Linked DNA regions of Homo sapiens. The protein of the gene in region 1 purifies or fractionates together with the protein of each later gene. This does not show direct contact. Each region holds a gene or a part of one and is shown on either strand. Other genes may lie near its edges. The genes, in order: MUC15, CDS1 and FCRL4.

Evidence for each region.
Region 2: the proteins of MUC15 (region 1) and CDS1 purify together in Homo sapiens (affinity purification with mass spectrometry; 3 studies listed by BioGRID and IntAct, with this or other methods). This does not show direct contact.
Region 3: the proteins of MUC15 (region 1) and FCRL4 purify together in Homo sapiens (affinity purification with mass spectrometry; 3 studies listed by BioGRID and IntAct, with this or other methods). This does not show direct contact.

The regions. Positions count from the first base shown.
Region 1 is NC_000011.10:26,569,153-26,576,284, reverse strand, and holds the start of MUC15 (mucin-15), read left to right. Parts: upstream 1-4,021; 5' UTR 4,022-4,244; intron 4,245-7,132. UniProt on the Homo sapiens protein: May play a role in the cell adhesion to the extracellular matrix.
Region 2 is NC_000004.12:84,579,132-84,586,196, forward strand, and holds the start of CDS1 (phosphatidate cytidylyltransferase 1), read left to right. Parts: upstream 1-3,995; 5' UTR 3,996-4,270; coding exon 4,271-4,387; intron 4,388-7,065. UniProt on the Homo sapiens protein: Catalyzes the conversion of phosphatidic acid (PA) to CDP-diacylglycerol (CDP-DAG), an essential intermediate in the synthesis of phosphatidylglycerol, cardiolipin and phosphatidylinositol.
Region 3 is NC_000001.11:157,595,005-157,602,350, reverse strand, and holds the start of FCRL4 (Fc receptor-like protein 4 precursor), read left to right. Parts: upstream 1-4,265; 5' UTR 4,266-4,406; coding exon 4,407-4,437; intron 4,438-6,002; coding exon 6,003-6,023; intron 6,024-7,346. UniProt on the Homo sapiens protein: May function as an inhibitor of the B-cell receptor signaling. May function in the B-cell-mediated immune response.

The DNA.
Region 1 (7,132 bases):
ACTAAGAAGTAGTGTCACTTTCTTTATTGTACAAATGAGAAAATATTCTTGGAAACGTGATGGCAATTATCCAAGGTTATGAAACCATTAAGTGGCAAAACCAGGATTCAAAACAAAGAAACTGTGACGTGGTAGCCTGAGCTTGTTCTACTCAGCACACTGCTTCCTTGGTGATTATAAATCTGGAGAATCTAGCCAGAGACAGAGCCCCAGAGTGCTAACACTGAATAAAGATTTCATGGGGCCACCTGAGCGACAAAGTCTTTCTGCTAACATGTGCGGACTATGATCACGTCAGCAAAAGTATCATTCTGAAGAAAGTATTGTTTATTTTTTAAATGTTTCCATCATCTTGTAACAACGCTATCCTCTACCTTTTTTGTTTTTGTTTGGCTAGAACTGGAAGGGAAGATAAAAAGATATAGTGGACACTATGTGAGACCCTAAATAATACAGAAAAATACCCAAGAAAATATTTTAAACCTATGAACAGCTTCAAGTACTATTAGCCATCACATAGAAATTATTGAAAATGTCTGATTTACTACTCTGAATTTAATAGCTGCACAATGTCAGTGGTTTTGAAAATGATTGTGTAATCGCTAAAATAATTTTGTGAAATTATTTATCTCCTTGTACAAAATTTCTTTCCATTATATATTTAAATAGTCGTAAAGGTTATGATTTCCAGTGCTTTATAAAAATGGACATTTTAAAATAAATTTATACTAGTATTTTATACCTAATTGTGTCTCTTTAAAAATATACCTTTAAAAAGCACTAATCTGTTGCAAAATTTAAATTGTTCATTTTATCTTTAAATCTATTTCCATCCAATTTCTACTTCAAAATATTTCTAATATATATTTATGTTTGAAAGTGTTGATTATCTTGCATAGTACTCTAAAATAATTTTAAAAATGAGATAGCAATTGTTTAAATTTTTAAAATTTCTTGTGACCATTAGGCTCTTACCTTAAAAAACAATTAGAATTGAGTAATCATCAGAAGTAATAAAACAATATAATCAATTTTAAATTTTAATGAATATTAAATGCAAAATCTAAGACTGTTATATTCTTAAGGATATCAATAGGGTTTGTGTTTGTTTTTCAATTCATATTTTATATTGTTACAATATGGTATTTTCAATTATATATTTTATATTTCAAAATGTTTACTAAGAAAACAGGTTCACATAAATATATAGATAGAAATGCAACAGGTTTTGCTATAGTCTTATCATTCAATTCTTTTAACTATGGTCGAATTAAATGCCCCAAATCACATAAAGATCTATCCTTTAAAGTTATTTTTAGTTGATTGACCAGGTTTACAACTTTCTTTAGCTCACCATTTATGTATGTATGCATGCAAGTATGTATACTTGCATATATGTATATGCAATATCATAACCTCTGCTTAACCAAGGGCATTGTCCTAGAATTTCCTTAACCCCAAAATGGAATATTTGACCTTTCCAAAAAGTTATAGTTAAGTGAAGAAGATCTTATTATAGCACCATATTACTTACCAGAGAAAGATAAACTTGAATAATAAACAACCATTAGCATTTATGAGAATAATCCCTCTATTTCTATCCTAATAGAATATTGAAATAAATTAAATGTTATCCCCAAATACATTTCCCAGCCGTTAAATTCTATTTTATTTATAAAGAATATCATTAAAATACTCTCAAATAATAGATTCATAATGTAATTTATTTTACTATTATTCAAATATTTCTTATTTGCTTAAAGTACCTATGTCCCTATGGGGAAACAAACATGAATTCCACTTGTAGCCTGTATCAGACTAAATATGCTATCAGTGAATCTGATCAATGCAAATTCCCTACATGTGACATCAGCATCAAGATTTGATGCTATAGGATTTGTACAAAAAGATACTCTTTTGGATTCAAAACAATGTTTTCAATTAGTTTGAAGTGTGGTCCCAAGCTATGTCTGCTTCTGTATTCAGATCCATTAGTGATATTCATGTGTCTTCGTGTTCTGGAAACTCCACTTGTGAGTGGTTCTATCATTGCAGACTAGGAAGAGGTTTTTCTTCCTCCCAGTATGTATTGTGAAACGTAATTAATGAGTGTAAAGCAATTGGTGAGTGCCAGATGAAAGGCACCATAGTGGGTAAGTACCAAAAAAAATTATACAAGCACTGCACAGTGTGTCATCTCAGCTGGGTTTGCTGATGAAATTGCAGGTAATTATCTCTCATTGTGGAGTTCCTCTGGAGAAAGGAGGTCTAAAGTGGGATTGGTCTTACCTAGAACCTAGGACTGTATCTCAGTGAAACTTGTTTGTTTGGCTAGAAATTACTTTTTAACTCCAACTCCATGAGTAAACAAAGGTTTCTGATAACAACTAAGTGAGCTAAGTAACAACTGAGGCATTAAATTTACGTACAGTTTACATTTTATAAGTTTATTTCCAGATGTGCTCAAGACAGTGAGGGTAGGTAAGGTTTATCTCTAGGGTGAGGTCTAATCAATTGATTATGATTGTAAGGAGGGCAATGATGAATAGGATTCTGGGCCCACAGAAAGGGTCTTCAGGAAAAAGCAACATGAGAAATTAGCGGGACTTTTATGGCAGTGAAAACGGAGAGCTATAGCAAAAGTGCATTGCAATGTTTATGCCTGGTATAAGCCATAATTACTATGGTTAAGGCAGAAGGGGATAATGATATTCCCACACATATTGCAGAAAAGGCCTAGGGAAAAGGTGCACCCAGTCCTGCCCAATCATGTTCAGTTCTCTAACTACAAACAGAAAATATATTTAGTTGGATTTTTACCTAAAAAGTGGCTAATCTGAAAATAAGCCATTGAATTCTATTAAGCCACTGTTCAGTAACTAACTGTTTGATTAAATTTAACCTGCTTTTCTTCGTACCACAGTAGAGACAGCTTAAATATCTTTTGAGACAATATTTTTTCGGGGTTGGTTTAATTTCTAATCAAACTCTGAAGGGGCCTTTGGGCTTCAGAAAATTTAAAACTATAGAATTACCTTGTTCTTTCCTCGGGCCAATTAACTGGGCAGATTCTTTGCATTCCATTTGAAGCTTACTAGCTCCTGCATTTTAGCTAAAGTTTCGTTTCTCGCTCAGCAGTTGAAAACCTATCTCCTTGTGCAGCAGAAACCAAGTATGAACCTCAGGCATATTGAGCTGAACGGCCCTTGGCGCCATCCCCAAACGCTGATGTGCGGAAGATCCCAGTTTCACTCTTCTCCCTTTCATAAGCTCTGAAAGGAAGTGTAGGAAGTATGCCAAGTTGTTATTCAACTCTAGTATTTAATCAAGCATTACCTGGGCACTTCTGAAATTCTCCAGCTTCTAAAGTGAGAGTAAACCAGAGAGAACACAGGGTGGAAACTACTTAATCGAGAAGGCTCCTAGGATAAGTGAGGATCACATGGCCATTCTCAGGCCCCAGTTCCTCTCCAAACTCCTGAAAGTCAGCAAGAAACCGAATCTCAGTCATGATGATTATTTTTCATGTAACACCTCACAGCGTTCTCAGGGATCCCAATATATGCTACTAATTCACTTTGTGTTAAGTAGGAGTTTCTTAAAAAAACAATTTCAGTGGACCTCAGAATAGACGCCTCACTACTGACCCCACTACATTTTCTCTACTTAGGCTTTAAGTACACAAATAGGGCAATCTACTAGAGTACAGAAAAATTGTTTATGATTTCAGAGAATGTGCGGCTGGCATAGAGCAACAAGTGCAGGGCATGACTTGTTTGGATTCCTCACCTGCAAGGAGCAGGGGGCCCAGCACATGTCAGAAATTCCTGCTATACCAGATGACTTTGCCAAAATCTTTGTCCTTTTTTTCACTTAGGGTGAAAAAAAAAATTGATGACCCGTGTTTTGCTACCACTGACGAGAGTAATACCTTGTCCCAAAGCTAAAACGATCAACCTATGAAAACTGGAGGGTTGGGCTTTTGTTGTTGTTGTTAAAGGCCTGAATGAGGTGATATCTTAATGCTTACAGCTGAGAAGCAGGTCAGTCAGGTTCCTGGGCGCTCTGTTACACAAGCAAGATACAGCCAGCCCCACCTAATTTTGTTTCCCTGGCACCCTCCTGCTCAGTGCGACATTGTCACACTTAACCCATCTGTTTTCTCTAATGCACGACAGATTCCTTTCAGACAGGACAACTGTGATATTTCAGTTCCTGATTGTAAATACCTCCTAAGCCTGAAGGTAAGTGTGCGTTGGGTCACTTAGGTCTCTCGCTTTCTCTCTTTCACTCTCTACTCTCTCTCTTCCTTGATTATTTACCAAAGAGAATCGCAGTGGTCTCAACTTTGACAGAACAGCCTGGCAAGTAGCTACGGCAATCCTTGCAGAGACAAGTAGTTGTTTTATTAAGTAATGACCTTCCAAATGAGTATTTGCACTCCTAAATGAGTTAGCTTTAAAAATTACTGCCAAATTTGCTAGATTACAGAACCAGCAGAAGAGTTAAATAAAAGCCTTATTTAAAACATACGTGACTATGAAATAGAATTTTCTTAAGTCAGATCTTAGTAAAGGTTTCAAAATGTTTAAAGTGGAAGTGGCAGCATGAATATAAATTGAATCTTAGATTTAAATTATGCATTTGTGCTGAAAGGTTTTTGCTTTAAGTATTAGAGGTTTTTGCTTTAAGTATTAGAATAGTTTTGGAAAAAATCTTCTAATAAAATAGATTAGAAGCTTCTATAAATCTTTTTCAAAGATTTTCTTAATTAAAAAGTTGGGAAACTGTTGTACAGTACATATAATTATTTAGCATGATATGTGTACATGTCTAACTTTCACTGGAAATCTAAAAGGTTACATCAGTTACTACAGAAAACATCCTATGAAATGAAAATGTGGTAAAATTTCTTAAAATTATTTTCATTTTGTGGCTATATAAGCCTCTTTTTTTATTAAAAGGATGCTGATTTCCATTTATCTACTTTCTATTTAGTCTGTAGAGGCTGCTCCTATAGACATTACAGTATGATACAGAAGGCTGGAAACCCTATGCTTGAAAATTTTGATCTAGAACTTTCCTTTCGGAGAAACTTTCTTTCTTTCTAAGCTTGACACTCATCACTAATTAGTTAAGTACTGAATTTTATGACTGAAAACTCCCAAGGTAGCAGGTCATATGACAAACTCTACATTTTTCCTGTAGTTACATAGCCTAAGTCTTTTAGCCAGAATAATGTTCTCAAACTTCTGAAATTTGTTTTTTTCTTGAAAGAAAGCCAGTCTTTTCTTTTTTATTTTTTCTTTCTTTTTACATCACATAAAAGTAAAATGAGAGGCCTAAGTTTCTCAGTCACAATCCTTTTTCTAGTTGGTTACGCTTCCAAAACCCTCTCATAAAAGAGGCATTTTTAGAAGGATGTCTTATGTCCTCATTTATTGTTGCTCTTGAATTTAGGAAACTAAAAATACTGTCCAACATTGGAAAAAGTCACTCAGAGTAACACTCAAGTTCTTCCTGAGATGTTAGCTACATAGCAGACAGAGTTTTCTTTGAGAGACAAACAAAACCCATCTGTCTTAATTTGTAGCCTAACATCTGTGAGAAGAAATGATCAAACACAACTTGGAGAAAAGGCAGCCCAATGTATAGTCGTCAGTGATTTTACTATAGAAACATGTTTTTATATTATGCCTGCAGTATACCTGAACTGATGATTCTATTTAGAATTTCTGATTTTGATTCTGTTTAGAATGAGTAGCATTTCTTTGCCCTTATATGGGTTAATTACCTGACATAAACCAGGACATCTCCTTATTTCCAAAGCTTGGTATAAAATAAGTATGACCCACGATTTCAACAGAGAGCCTGGACAGAATAATGACTTTATGCATTTAAAAGGAAGCAAAAATATGGACAGTGAATGTGGGTTTGCTTCCCTTACTGGCCAGAGGTGTTTTTTGTTTTTGTTTTTTCTCATCACTTTCTGCAGCCCTCCATACAAAAGTAATAATGTGAAACCACTTTCCAGTGCCAGTAACAAAGAAGGCGAAAGTCGTGTTCATTCTCCCTCTGTAGAGGAGTTGTTCTAAAACAGTGACACTATGAAAATATATTTTAAAACTAGTTAAATTTTAAAACAAAAAAAATGTTAATATATACAGGAAAGTTTAGAATCTGTATTTAAGGTATCACAAAGGAACTGGAAATCCTCCTTTCTTTCTCTGTTCACTTTATAGTAATTCTACCTTTAGAAGGTTTTCGAGTTTGTGATGATCCTAAACCTCTATTTTATAACTTCAAAATTTCTCTTAGGAGCTACCACCCAGATGCAAAAAGAGGCAAAGATCAGGAGGTGAAATCATTACTGGGTTCTCCTGATTTCTCTCCCTCTGCAATTCTACTTTTCTTTCATCCCACCTTCTGTCTGCCCCCACAGTGCACCTGGCTGACAGATGAACTTGGGTGCACTCAGGGATACCATCCATAATCCATCATCATTTCAGCTTTATAAAGCAAGTATATAACATAGAGTTAGATATTTGAACTCCAGAGATGGAGAGAGGCTAAAAGGAAAGCACACACGAAAGTAAAACATATATAGATTTCATTTGTTGCCCTCTGGAGTTGCTGTCCCACCTCCATTAGGCTTCTGTCACTTGCAATGTGCTTTGTTCAGTTGGCATGAGGTCAAACTTCGGCCAAATCTCCTGGACCTTACTCCAGCAAAATTTCATGGTGGGGTTCTGAATAACGGATGACTTCAATTCCTGGCTGCTTCTACGACTTTAAGATGAAAGGAACCTGAGTAAGTGGCGTAACCTGGCTCTCCTAGAAGCCAGGCAGCAGAGGCAAACTTGTCCCTACTGCAATGTCAGGACAATCCGTCTTCACAAAAGCCTTATCTGTAGTGTATAAATTTCTGAATAAACCATAAATATTTAATAGTATTCACAACATACTGAACTACCCCTCTCTTCCATTTCTCTCCTTTTCCTGGGAGATAAATTATAGGCAGTAACAGAGTGCTTCGCACGTTTGGGGGTGTTGATACCCTAGGTTTTCAAGTTACAATCAAAAGCTGGGTAAAGGAATGAGAGATCCCCTTGGTGGTTCAATGTCACAGGCA
Region 2 (7,065 bases), on another chromosome or scaffold:
ACATGTCATTTAGGATATAGCTTCAGCTGTGTTTGATGAAAATGTTGCTGAAAGCAAATTAGGTCACAGCTAGATTCAAGCTATGATTCAAGCTAGGTTCAAGCTATGACTCAAACCCAGGGTTCTTGGTATAGAAACTCCATACTTCTAACTACACCATAGCACTCTCTCCTCTGATACTCTCTCACTACAATACTTGATAGTACACCATTATTTTCCCGTGCAATTCCATTAAAAATAAAAATGTAAATATAAGTTGTTTTTCAAGATTTTCCCATAAAATGTTTCTCTGGTGGCCTAAATCAGAAATTCCTACCTCTAACTTATAAACAAAGCTGACAGAGGGCAACAGAGAAAGATAGGTCAAGCGACAAAAGCTGTTACTTGGGTATCTAAGCAACTGGAAACGCTTGGCTGAGGAAGATTTCTTCCGCCCCTGGCAAGCTGGGGACATTCCAGCAGGGCACCTTTGAGCCTCTGATGTGAAAAGCAGCTCAGATTCACATTCCCACCCCAGAGGGGCATGTTTATCAGTCTGGGAACATTCTGAGGGTATTCAGGGAAGAGTGGTAACAAACTGCTTCATCTACTCTCACTACTTCAGGCAACGTCTCTGCATCTTATGCTCTTATTACTTCCAGCAAAAGAGAAGGTAAACAGTAATCTAAAATAAAAACCATATAAGCAATAACGTTAGCACTCTCTCTCATCTCTCTAGCAAATTCCTCATTAGGAGTTAGAAGGTGAAAAAAAATTTTTTTTAAAATTTTTTTTTTAATTTTTTTGAGATAGGGTCTCACTCTGTCACCCAGGCTAGAGTGCAGTAGAGTGAACAGGGGTCACAGAGGCCTCGAACTCCCAGGCCCAAGCAATCCACCCGCCTCAGCTTTCCAAGTAGCTGGGACTACAGGCACACGCCACCATGCCCAGCTAATTTTTAAATTTTTGTGTAGAGATGGGGTCTCCATATGTTGCCCAGGCTGGTCTTGAACTTCTGGGCTCAAGAGACATTCATGCATCAGCCTCCTAAAGTGCTGGAATTACAGATGTGAGCCACCACGCCCGGCTGGAAAATCTTAAAATCAATCCAAGAAGTGCTGGCTGGGTTGTACTACGTGATTAGGCCCATGCATATGCTTAGGGTTTCCATGAAGCCCTTCAGCAGGATAAATACAAGAAAAATTAACAGGTAAAGCCTTAGAAACCATTACACGCCAGATTTTGTGTTACCAAACACAAATACAATAAATTTAGAGAACATAAGTTCCCTGAATGAAAACGAAAGATAAAAATAAAAAAGAAAGAAAAAGGAAAAATTAGAAAAAAGACATAGAAAAAGTCTGAGAACACAGAGTTCCGTAAGCCAGTTGTGGTTGAGTATATTGTACAGTATCTTAAGTAAAATAAAGTCATTACTACAACCACTTTTAATAAGTATTAAAATCAACTTCTCTCTGATATAAAGTGAAAATGAAGAAAAGTGTCTATGTAAGTCTAAAATAGACTTTAAATGAAGAAACCATAAATACTATACATTCATGGGTTGCATAACAATGTTTCAGTCAACAATGGACCACATATACCACTGTAGCCTATAAGATTATAATACCATATTTTTATAGTACCTTTTCTATGTTTAGATACACAAATACTTACCATTGTGTTACAGTTGTCTAAGTAATAGGCTATACCATGTAGCCTGGGTGTGCAGTAGGCTATGCCATCTAGGTTTAGTATACCCTGTGATGTTGCCCAATGATGCATTTCTAAGAATGTATCCCCACTGTTAAACAACATATGACTGTATAAATTTCCCTTGTTGTGCTATACCTTTGCCATCCCATCATTTCTTCATTCACCTCTTCAGCAAACATTGTTACCTATAGAAGGGTGGTTTTTGGCACTGTGGAAAGAGCTAGACCTGTAAAGATGAATAAGCCAGTTTCTGCTGTCTGGACTCAGTCTATTCACTCAACTAGTGGTAATAGCTATAATGAAGAAGATTGAAAGAAATTGCTCTCTTAGCTAAAACACAAGAAGGAGCAGAGCTTAAGGAAGGTGAGGTAAGTAGAACCTCACATTCTATTTTGGCAGTCTTTGCATTGGTCCCACTTTTCCTGGGTTGGGGAATACTGTTTCTTCTATCACGCACTACTGTCCTCTGTTGTTCCCCTCTGTCACTCCTCTCACTCTCTTTTTTCCTCCTGCAGCAAAGGGAAAAAGTCAAAGAGGCCATGAGAGGACTAGGCAAAGGGGAAACAGGAAGTTGTTCAGGTACCTTGTGTAGTAGGTCTCCTTTTCTTGGACCATGGGGGAAAGCAAAGGCTGGATTCTGATCGTCTAAGAGCTAAAAGGGACCACAGAGGCCATCCTTACTATCCGTTTACAGCTGAGGACACTGAGGGTTAATAACTTACCAAGGCCATGCAATTAGTGGCATTGGCAGCACTAGAACTCAGGCTTCTTGACTTCCAGAGAGTTAGAATGGAGCACTTCTAATCCTTTATGCAGGGTAGGGTAGTAGCCAGAGATGGAAACCCTACTACTGGCTTCAGCCATTATTCTGATTATCTTCTTCACTATCAAGCACTCCTTCATTTCCGATCCTCCAAACAATTGGACAATTTATTAATGTAGTCACCCCATAGTTCTCTGTTCAGTAGGGACTTATTTTCAAATCTTCTCTGTCATTTCAGTTATCCACCCCATAAGGAACAAATTATGGTTTCTCGACATCCTTTTGAAAACGTGCAACCCAAACTAACCGCACAGCTTCAAAGATCTGTTTGGTGAGGTAAAATGATGTCTTTGTGTTCTGCTTTTCAATGCATCCTAATTTGACTTTTGGTTTTGCTCATTTGTTAGTAAATTTTCAACACTTTACTTACTTTTACCGTGTCAGTAAAGACCTTGAGGAATTTACATAGTTGATCTATTTCTATAAGGGTGCTCTCCTGAACCTTGTCCTGTGTGAAGGCCCGCCTTTTTTCTTTTTTCTCTTTGTTTCTCTCTTTTTTTCATTTGTTAGCTTGTCAGTAATGACCGGGTGGCGGATACATGTCAAGAAAACTAATCACCTTCTAACAGGATTAAGACTAGAATTAATGCAGATCTTGTGCCCTTCCTGTTCCCGCTTTGGCAGCCCAAGGTCCACCACTGCTCAGAGACTAGCTGGAGGGCAACGGCGTCCCATAGCATCTCACACTGTGTTGGGATCCTAGGTGGTGACCTTTGTGAGATTCAGTACTGAGTTTCTGGGAGACGGCGCTGCGGTTGTGATCGGAATTGTTGGCCGACGCACCTCTGGACGCCCAGTGAGGCAAAAGCATCTCCTGTTTTCAAGGTGATGACACTGGGCTGGAATGCCGCGGGGCCAACCAGTCCGTCCTGCCAGACAAGTTTCTGGTCCAGTGAGCCTCCGACCCGCCGCGCGTGTCAAGCTGACAAGGCCGGGGAGGCGTTTGAAGCAGCAGTGTTGAGCGCTGTTAACATTTAGCGGGCGTCTTTGAGTAGCTCCTCCAGCCCTCGCAGCGGCCCAGGGACTAGCCTGCAAGTTCTCAACGCTCACTTCCAGCCCGCGCTGGCCCCGCCTCCGCCTCCCAGCTCCTCAGCCTCCTCCCGCCCCACCGCTCCCACCTTTTCTCAGGCCCCCACCTGCCAGCACGCAGAGGCGGGGGCGGGGTCGCGGGCCGGGCTCCTGACGTCACCTCACGGGGAGGCGGGGCTGTGGGAACCGCAGTGCAGCGCAGAGGGGCGGGGCCTGCGGCGCGAGACCTGGTGCGGGAGGCCCGGGCAGGGAGAAGTGTGCGGGGCCGGGACAAGCCGGCTCCGAGTCCGGCTCCGGGGGGCGGGGCGGGAGGGGCCTGCGCGGCGGCGGGAGCCCAGAGCCGCGCTAAAGCGGGTCAAGCGTCCTCCTTTTCTCCCCGCCCCTTCTCCTCCTCCTACCTGGGCCTCTGCGTGGAGACGCGCACCTGGCAACCGGAGGCCGCGTCTCCGCCTTCTCTGCTCGCGCCTGGCGCCCGGAGCCTGCCCGGGACCTCCGCCGGAGCCGCGCTCGCTGCAGGCGGCCTCGAGCGCTCTCTCGTTGATGCCGTTTTGGAGGTGACCGGCGCGGCGGCCGCTCTATGGTGGGGCCGCGTTAGTGGCTGCGGCTCCGCGGGACTCCAGGGCGCGGCTGCGAGGTGGCGGGGCGCCCCGCCTGCAGAACCCTGCTTGCAGCTCAGGTTTCGGGGTGCTTGAGGAGGCCGCCACGGCAGCGCGGGAGCGGAAGATGTTGGAGCTGAGGCACCGGGGAAGCTGCCCCGGCCCCAGGGAAGCGGTGTCGCCGCCACACCGCGAGGGAGAGGCGGCCGGCGGCGACCACGAAACCGAGAGCACCAGCGACAAAGTAAGTGGAGCCGAGAGAGGCGGACGCCGCGCCCTGGCTGGGTCCTGGTTGGAAGCGGGACACTTGAGAGCAAGGGTGGGGCCCGTCCAGCGTCAGGTGAGGCTGCACGCTGCCGGTGCACCTTCCTCCCTGCCTGGCACTGCTTCCTCCTTCTCCAGAGGGGGTCGGGACCCGGGATCCCAGTGGCGGTGAGGTTCCCAGGATGACCGCGGCCGCTGCCCGGGAGAAATGGGCCACTCAACCCGGCTTACAGTTTAGCTTCATCCTCTTCCGGTCCCTTCTTCAGGATCTGGGGCCGACGCTGGAATCAGGAGGGAACCTGTCCTCCTAGGGGCTGCAGTGCAGTTAGTAGCTGCCACCTCACCTCTCTTTTCAGTAGAGGGAACAAAGTTAGTAAGGACTAGAGACGTGCCACCGTCGGCTGTATCATTTCATCGGATCCTGACGCGGGAGGCTTGGCTTCTCGCGCTGCCCCATATGCACTTACATTTTCTCCATCCTTTTTCAGTATGATAGATTTTGGAGGTTTTAGAGTATCATGCACGTGACATAATAGTAATCTTCCAGCTTCTTTTGAGTACACGACAGACAGTGCAATTCTTCTGTCTACCAGTAGATTTCATATAACCCGACGTTAATTCATGAAGACTTTTCACTTCCTTTTCTATAGATTACTCTTCTTTCACATTTAAGAATAAGTAGATGCGATATTACTATCTGTTTAAAGCTAGAAAAGGAATTCGGGCGTGTTTGGTAATATAGTGGTGCAAGTAAGAACTTGTGAAGAAATGCAGTTTTATGATCTTATGGACTGGATGGTTTGGGAAATTGGACCAGAGAATAGATTGTTGTATCAAACCGTCTGTTTAGAAAATTCCATTTTATTTGAGAAACCCAAAACACGTAAACTGTTTCTAGAAGCATACTTTGGAAGCAGGCATTGCAGTTTGAATTACAGAAGTGAGGTGGATTGCCCAAGGTCAAGTTCGTGGCTCTTGAAACTAGAATCTAAGTTTCCTGATTCCTTTTCTTCTGGTTTATGTGGTTGCTGAGACTGGCTGGCAGTTCTGATTTGGGGAGGATTCCACCTGAAAGTTGATGTTGATGAGTTTGATGTAACCCAAATTACAAAGCCCTAATAGGAACATATCACATGATATCACGAAATAAACGTAAACGTGATTCTTAGTACTAAAACTTTAGAATCAATGGAATCAATGTAGTGACACTTTTCCCCTTACCCTTGATAGTAAGTAGAATAAAATGAGTCTGTAATAAAACATAAGTGTCAAGGAATTACCCAAAATATAACAATTTCCAGCTACTGAAGGTTGAAGTTACAAAACTAGGAACAGTGGGCTGAGAATAGTCTTTGTGAAAACTGCCTTGGAAACTAGACCCAAAATAGAATTAATTAGGTTGGGATTTGTTTTGTTTTGTTTTTAGCACTGGTATAGTTTAGCATCAAGGAAATACCAGCTTCTCTATGCTGACTTCCTTAACTCGACAAAGCTAACAAGCTTTTGTTAAGAGAAAAGATGTTCAGGAAGCCATGCATAAAATACCTTCGGAATTAAGTTTTTTCTTTTTTTAACACCATAATGTATTTAAAATGGAAACTACTTCTGTAGTGTGATTTGACTCATTAGAACTGTTGTCTCTAGCTATCTGTGACTAGGTTACCTCGCTGCATATTTATTTATTTATCAATGCAGTACTGTTGGTTTTTATTGACACATGTCCAGCTGGATTTTGTTTTCTGAAAGTAGACTTTGCTATATGTAACCTGTTTTGTCAAGATTTCTTAGACAAGGATGAACATATTCAAACCATATCTAAAATACTGCTCTACTTTTAGAGTTTATCATGAGGAACTTTTGACTTGGCAAGCTGATAGATATTGAACTCTATCCCTGTCTGTCCTTTCTTATCAGGGTGTGTATTTGAATACACCTGTATTTCCAGGTCAAGGGCTATTTTAAAATCAGTTTGCACACTGGAGGCTGGTTAATATTTGGTCAATTCAAACTCATTAAGGGCCTTCCCTGTTCAGTTGCAGTAAAGGCAAAACTCTTGGGGAATTAGTGAAAGAAGTGAAGGAGGTACATTATATTCTGCTATTATAATACACTCCCATGCATTGCCATTTTGTAGTCTTTTAATAATGGTGTTATTAACATGACACTCCCTTTGTTCCGGACTGGTGACTTATGCTGAGAGAAGGCTCTGTACTCCAGATAATTAGCAAGTGAAAAAAATACTTCTTACCTGCAGAGGAATGTTCCCAAGTGTTAAATGTTGGAGTGGTACTTGAAAAATGACAAGGGACATCTTCAAGGAACCCTGCAGGAGACATATATGAGTTAGATTTATTGGAAGTCTGTACAAGGCTCATTGTTAGCATAGAGGGCATGCTTGGCGTCTACCTGGAGACTGTAGGAAAAGCTCTAAACAGTGGATGAGGATTGAGCTGGGAATGAAAAGATTCCTGGGACTCACCAGGTTTACAAGGGTTTGGGTAGGGTGTTCTAGGCAAAGGACGTGTTGGGTTTTTTCTTGAATCAGCATTCTAGGCACAGGGTTGCAGATACAGAGGAAGAGATAATGAAGGTCCTGAGAGCAAAAGGAGGAGGCATTGCTTAGAGCAGTGGTCCCCAAATTTTTTGGCACCAGGGATC
Region 3 (7,346 bases), on another chromosome or scaffold:
CAACCTGCGATTCTGTTCTCACTTTGGACAAGTTTTTGAGCAAAAAGATCTGTATGTTCATGAAGATAGAAGAGTCTCGACTTAGAACAAGAAATCATCTCGGAAACGTCTCTAAAACAAAAGGAGATTATATTTTACCACTGAAGGCTAGAAATATTATTATCTGTAGTCATGGAAAATAAAATGCGGCTTCTAGATGGCACCAGCCTACAAATAAATGTAATTGAGCTTCTTCACTGCCTTTTCTTTGAAGTTCAAAGTTGATTACTCCAAGCGGCTGTTCCTCCATTACTAACAAATGGCTATAGAAATCATTACGTATACAGCCACTGATTTGGGAGAAGAGTCTTTTAATAGCAAGAACAACAAATTTATCTTTCCAGTATTTTTCCCACCCATAAAGCACTGACAAGACCACAGACTCCCTGTCACATAGTTAAAAATGTATGATTCTCCCGTAGTAGTAAAGACCATACTCAGCACTCAGATCTTGGTTTCTAAATATCAGTCTCTACTGAAAGGAATTGGGGCTCCTTGAAGAAGTGGCTGATTCTAGAGTTGGGGCAGGAAAATGTAAGATGAGCCAGGAGCATCTCGTAGTGCCAGACAGTACAGAAATGTTCCAACAAGGAAAATGATGAGAGTTTCTCAAAGGCACAAAGAAGAAGCTGACCTGAAAGAGCTCCCAATCACCAAAGCTGGATCAATTTGAGCAACAAAATATATAAAGCATTATATTGTTACCAAAGTTTAAAGTAAATATACAAATCTATAGTGATATAAATAAATGATTGAATGGATGAATACATGAATAAGTAAATAAGAACAAGGAGACAAATCCCCCTACCTCACCTCTCACCCTGACTGTGGGCTGGACTTGCTCCCAAACGAAAGAATATAGAAAAAGACAAACAGTAATTTTACATCGAAGAAACCTGGCAAACACTACCTTAACCAAGTGATCACAATTTACATTACCAGTGATAAGTCATGTTGAGATTCCATACCCCCAATGTGATGAGAAGGACACTCTACCGCTGTAGTATTCTTTGTGAAAACTCATAACCCCAGTTTAATTATGACCAAAACGTCAGACAAACCCAGATTGAAAGACGCCGCAAACTACCTAGCCAGTACTCCTCAAAACTGTCAAGGTCATGAAAAACAAGGAAACACTGAGAAACTCACAGATGGAGAAGAGACGTCTGTGAGCAAAGATAGCTAAATGTAATGTAGTATCTTAGAGGGGATACTAGAAGAGGAAAAAGGTGTCAATGGAAAACTGAAACAAGCTGGATAAAGCCTGTAATTAATAGTAATGTAGAGACGGAGCAAAGATAACTAAATGTAATGTAGTATCTTAGAAGGGATACTAGAAGAGGAAAAAGGTATCAATGGAAAAACTGAAAAAAGCTGGATAAAGCCTGTAATTAATAGTAATGTAGAGACGGAGCAAAGATAACTAAATGTAATGTAGTATCTTAGAAGGGATACTAGAAGAGGAAAAAGGTATCAATGGAAAAACTGAAAAAAGCTGGATAAAGCCTGTAATTAATAGTAATGTAGCAATCTTGGTTTCTTAGTTTTGATAAATGCACCCCCATGATGTGAAATGATAACGGTAGGGGAAATTGAAACAGGTGAGGGCTTCCTATATGGGAACTCTTTGTATTATCCTTACTATTTTATATAAATCTAGAATTACCCCAAAATGAAAATTTATTTTTTAAACTGTAAAGGTTTAAATGTTTTTCAAAAAAAAATTAGAAAAGTTTAAAAATTTCAGTTTCTTACATTCTCATTGAAAACAATTATTTTTGTCCTTTGTTAATATAAAATCTAAAAGTTCCTGGTTAGTCAAGCAATTGCTTAATAAATCATGGTATATGTACTTCCTGGCTGATGTTTCAAAGTACTAACCACACTTCTGGCACCAATAACTAAAATATTTCTGTCAGTGACTTAAATACCACAACAAAAATAGTACTTGACTGACGTAAACTTAAACATTTACACAGTAGTTGTAAATAAATATGATTTTTGTGTTTGGACATCTTGTATAACATCATAAATGTGAAATTTTATTTTGCTAATTGAAATCTATTCATTCAGCAAAACTTATGGTAGAAACAAGAAAACAGGCAATATGATTTCAACTTCCCTCAATCCTTAGTCAGTCAATAAATATTGGAGTTCTAAACTCATGCTAAATACTATTTTCCAGTGTTATAAGGAATACAAAAATGTTGGTAGGATATTATGTCAATTATAAAGTGCTTTTTAGTTCATTATACTTGTTACTTCTAGTATTACAGAATAGTTCTCAGCATAGGGACTAAGCTGAGAGTTCTATGTCATTAATGTATTCATACAAACATCAATAACAACATCCACTTCAGCTGGACATTATTTTTATCTCCTTTTTACCAGTGTGAAAGAGGCTAAGTACTTGACCAGAGTCACCCAACTAGCAAGAGGTGAAGTCAAGATTTCATCCAGATGTGTGGGATTCTGCAGATCAGGTTCTTGACTGCCATTTTATACCCTTGCTCCTCCTGGGACAAATGAAGGCAGCTGAAAGATGACAGCACGGTCACACGGCAAGGAGACAAAGGACCCATGTGCCGCCTTGACAGCTCTATGTCTTTATGGTTCCTTGTGTCTATGTCTACTCTGGCCCTTACCACATTGACTTTTTTAAAGTCTTTAAGAGAGATGCACTTTATTCACCTTTTTATTCTTCTAAGGCCATGGACATTGTCTAAAATATAGTTGATGTTCAATACAAACCCTAGTTAGAAAATAAATTATTACAGATATATAGAAAAACATTATATTAGAAAAATACAGACCACTCTTAATCCATCCTATGTCTATTATCTATTCACAGATATCTTGATGTGATGGTGATGGTCACGATAACTGCCTTCCATCTTAGTGCATGCTCATCTCTCAGTCCTAGAATGATATTCTTTCAGCTTGGATGTTACTTCCTCAGGGAAGCCTCTTATGCATCCCCAGAACTGGGTCAGATTTCCCTCTTAGTGGACTCTCAGAAATTACATACAATTCACTTCTATGTAATTTCCTGTTGACTTGCTGTCTTCTCCACCAGAATGAAAGCTTTCCAAGTCTTGATTAACACTGTACTTCCAGCACCTGGCACCATACCTGAAGCACCATGGTGTTTCTTTTTTTTTGCCATTAACATTTTATATATATATATATATATATATATATATATATATATATATATACACATACATATACACAAGATAATAGCATAAAAAAGTTTTAAAGAGTTATACATACCAAAATATTATACGTACCAAAAAACGTCACTACGGATTTTTCCATTTTTTTCTTAATTTTTTTTTTAAGTTCTGGGATACATGAGCAGAGTGTGCAGGTTTGTTATGGGTAGGGAGAGCATTAGGTGTTTCTCAAAACACCAAACAGCATGTTGCCCAGTGTGAAAGAATCCAAATGGCAAAAATCAAAATTTAATAGAATTATTTAAATACCCACTCTGACTTCCTGACGTGAATCGCTTCTCAAGGCTAAAGCCATCATATTTTCAGAACTCTCTAGCCTCTTGTCTTTCAAGGAAATCACAACTTCTTCTCTCTGCCACCAGATACCAGGCATATGTATTTCAATCAATATATATTTGCCAAGACATTCCTGTAGCAAATTTTGGATTCTAGGACATTAAGTAAAAATGTTATGGCCTATTATCTAGGAAGAGCATGATGGGGCTATAATTTACTCCTCAGCTTGCCTTCTACTCAGATCAAAAGTTGTGGTTTCCCCCTGGACTGATGAGTCAGGATATTTTCATATATATCAGACAAGGTGAGAGTTGTCTTGTGATTGAGATGTTTCATCAGGTCTACAGACGGCCTGCTGGAGGTGTTCCAGTAGAGGTATCAGCGGTCAGAGGAGGCCTTTTCTGTGTTGAATGAGAAATTCTTCATCTCTGGGGATATTCAGGGACATCCTTAGATTATGTGGATTTCAATAGGCCTGCAATCTCACCTCATCTCTAGTAGCAGAGAGAATAGGTTGTGATTTCCTTGAAAGACAGAGCCTAGAGAGTTCTGAAACTAGAGTAGCTTTAGCCTTGAGAAGTGATTCACCCCAGGATGTCACAGCAGTACTTAATTCTATTAAATTTTGATTTTTGTGGTCTGGATTCTCTCACACTGGTCCACATTGCTGTTTGGTGTTTTCAGAAAGATTCCTCTACTTCCCCCTTTCACTTCATTATCTCAATCAGCTTTATGCAGAGAAGAAGCTTACTGAGCTCACTGCTGGTGCTGGTGTAGGCAAGTGCTGCTTTGGCAATCTGGGCTGACCTGGCTTGTCTCCTCAGAACTCCTTCTCCAATCCTGGAGCAGGCTTCCATGCTGCTGTGGGCGTCCTTGCTGGCCTTTGGTAAGTGATGGGGAGGAGACCTTTGCTTGCTGCAAAGCTGAGCCTCACCATGAGCAAAAGCCCTCTTTTCTGCTGCTGCAATCATGGATTTTTACTCCCATTTTAGAACAGCAGAAAATGAACAAAAAGGAAAGATAATGATTTACTGGTAGAAGGGGAAAATGATAATAATTGATTTCCAAAGATGTATTTCTCATCTATTTTTGCTATGAATTGCCTATGGAAAATCATTTTACCCCCAAATGGACTTATTTTGTTTATGCAAAAAGAAACCTATGGCTAGGTTCAGTCCCTACGTCACAGAGCATGAGGACCCAGAGGAAAAGATGGACTGAGTTATTTGTGAAGGATAAAGTCCTGATTGTGAACTCAGGTAGAAAGGATCACCTGCTGAGAATAGTTATTTCCTTCTCTGTATTCTAAGTTCAAACCTGTTCTGATGTTTGCAAAGAGCATGAGAAGAGAAGAGATAAGATGATTTCCCTTTGATTTTTTTCTTCCTGCTTTTGTACCACTTGTCAGTGTTTGTCCAAATGAGGCACGGATTTCCTAGTTGCTCAAACTAGGGAATTAAAGAACAGTCAGTCTTTTGTTCATTAAATATTTATTAAGCGTATTTGTCTAGTTCCCACCTGATCCCCAGACCCCAACTAAGGGAAGACCTATTAGTGTGATTGGCACATGATAGGAACTAAGGAGTGAGTGGATGGGTATACTTGGCATGCCACACTGCTGGGCACCACAGAGGATGCAGAGACCTGAAGGACACAGATTCTGCCCTCAAGAGGTGACATTCTCAATAGAACCTCAACGTACACATGCAAGAACATCTGACTCGACAATATGAGAAAAATATTACACAAATAGTTACAGGATAATGTGTGAGGATGTCAGTTAATTTGTGCTAAGCCCTGGCTACATCCCACTTTTCTAAGGGCACCCCATGTATAAATGTATCCAATTCTCTAACATTTGATCAGGTGGAACTTTTATAACTCCCATTTACAAATGAGGAAATGAAGGCACAAAGATGTTGGTCTTGTCCCTGAGGTTTATGCAGCTAGTACAGTGGCAGAGTCAGGATTCGAACCCATAATCTAACTTTGGAAACTAGGCTTTTAACTACTACCCTCTACTGTCTGTCTCATTTTGAGTTCCAAATTAGCTATGATAATAAGTGTTCTGAGTCAAGAGAAGAGGAATCAGCAGCAGCCCCATACTAAAAAATTAATGACAGCAGCCATTAATTGAAACCTTACTGATCTAACTCATTACAGTATTACTATGAGGTCGCTTTCATGAGCCTCATTTTTCAAATGAGAAAACTGAGACTTGAAAGTTCATGTGGTTTGCCCTGGGTCATACAGCTAAAATTCAAACCAGACTGTCTGAGTCCACAGCCTGAGCGTCTGGCCACTGTGTTTCCCCGCTTCCCTGGGATGGATGGAATGGAACGTGTTTCTCTTCCTCTTGGTTGGAAGTAGCATATGAGTGTATGGGCTCTCAGGGTGAATAGTTCGGGACTCTTCGCCTACGCTGATGGCTGGCTCTTTACTCTCTTTCAGCTCCAGTCTGTGGACAATCTGGTAAGTCCTTATTTTCTTTGCTCCTTTATGTCTCTAGATACCCTAATAACTATATTTTATCTCAAATACTTACAAGAGTCCCTGTTGTCCATTTCATCCTTTTCCTGAGTGCTGCAGGGATGTAGAGACATCAGCTCGTGTGGTGACTCTGACCCTAAGAACCAGGCTATTTGGGGGTGACTCTCTTAAACCAAAACTGCCATTGTGCTGGCTAAACATGGCAGGGCCTGGGATATGTGTCACAGCGTCCACAGGAAGAGGAGCTGTCACCCCGCCTGATGTGGGATTCTAGCCAAGCCTGATGGAATGCATAGCATCCCAAGAGGAAAAGGGTAGAAATAAGCCAATACTTCAGAGGGGGAGGCTGGGGCTCCAGCAGCTTTTCCACTAACCATGTGTAACAAATTTATCCCCAACTTCTGCATCCCATGGAGACACACTTCTCTGTTAATAGCTCAAATTATGATGACTCTGAGTCTCCATCTATCCTACTGGTCAGCAAAAAGTCCCATCCTCTATAGGCAGCTGCCTCACAGGTGTTTTGGCCATTCCTATAGAGCACCCTAGGAGCTGCTGGAGCCAGCAAGGGCCTTGGCCCCCTTGAGGTGCACTGTCTCTTGCAGCTCCTAACTCTGCTGTTCTTCCCCTCCTCGGTGCCTTGGACACAGACTATTTCCCACACACCCTTCCTGAGACAAGATTATAACTTGGCAGACTTTGCTAATGGTTCTAGAATGGGGAAATGAAATACAAAAAGTGCCTTGAATTAACTGCAGCTAGGGATGTGGTTAACCTCAGAGCCCATCAACTCAGTCTCAAACACACGAAGGCCATGAAAAGTTATGTCCCTTCCTGGCCATAGGGCCACCTGCACATAGCAGGGGCAGCTTCCTCAGAGCAAAGAAGAGTCTAGTTGCATACATCAAAGGAAATCAACTCTCCTTCCCTCCAGTAGAAGACCTATTGCCTAAGTCCCAATGGCCCTGCATCCAGGTGCTTCCCAGGAATATAGCTGGTAGGGTTTTCTATTCTCTTCAGCAGAAACACAGCCCCATTCCCACTGATGACATAGAGTATTCTGTCCAAACCTTTAAAGACAGAATTTTCTTTTTAAAAAGTGTCTGCAGAGGCTGGGCACAGTGGCTCATGCCTGTAATCCCAGCACTTCGGGAGGCTGAGGTGGGTGGATCACTTGACGTCAGGAGCTCAAGACCAGCCTGGACAACATGGTGAAACCTCATCTCTACTGAAAATACAAAAAATTAGCCGGTTGTGGTGGCACATGCCTGTAATCCCAGTTACTCAGGAGGCTGGGGCAGGAGA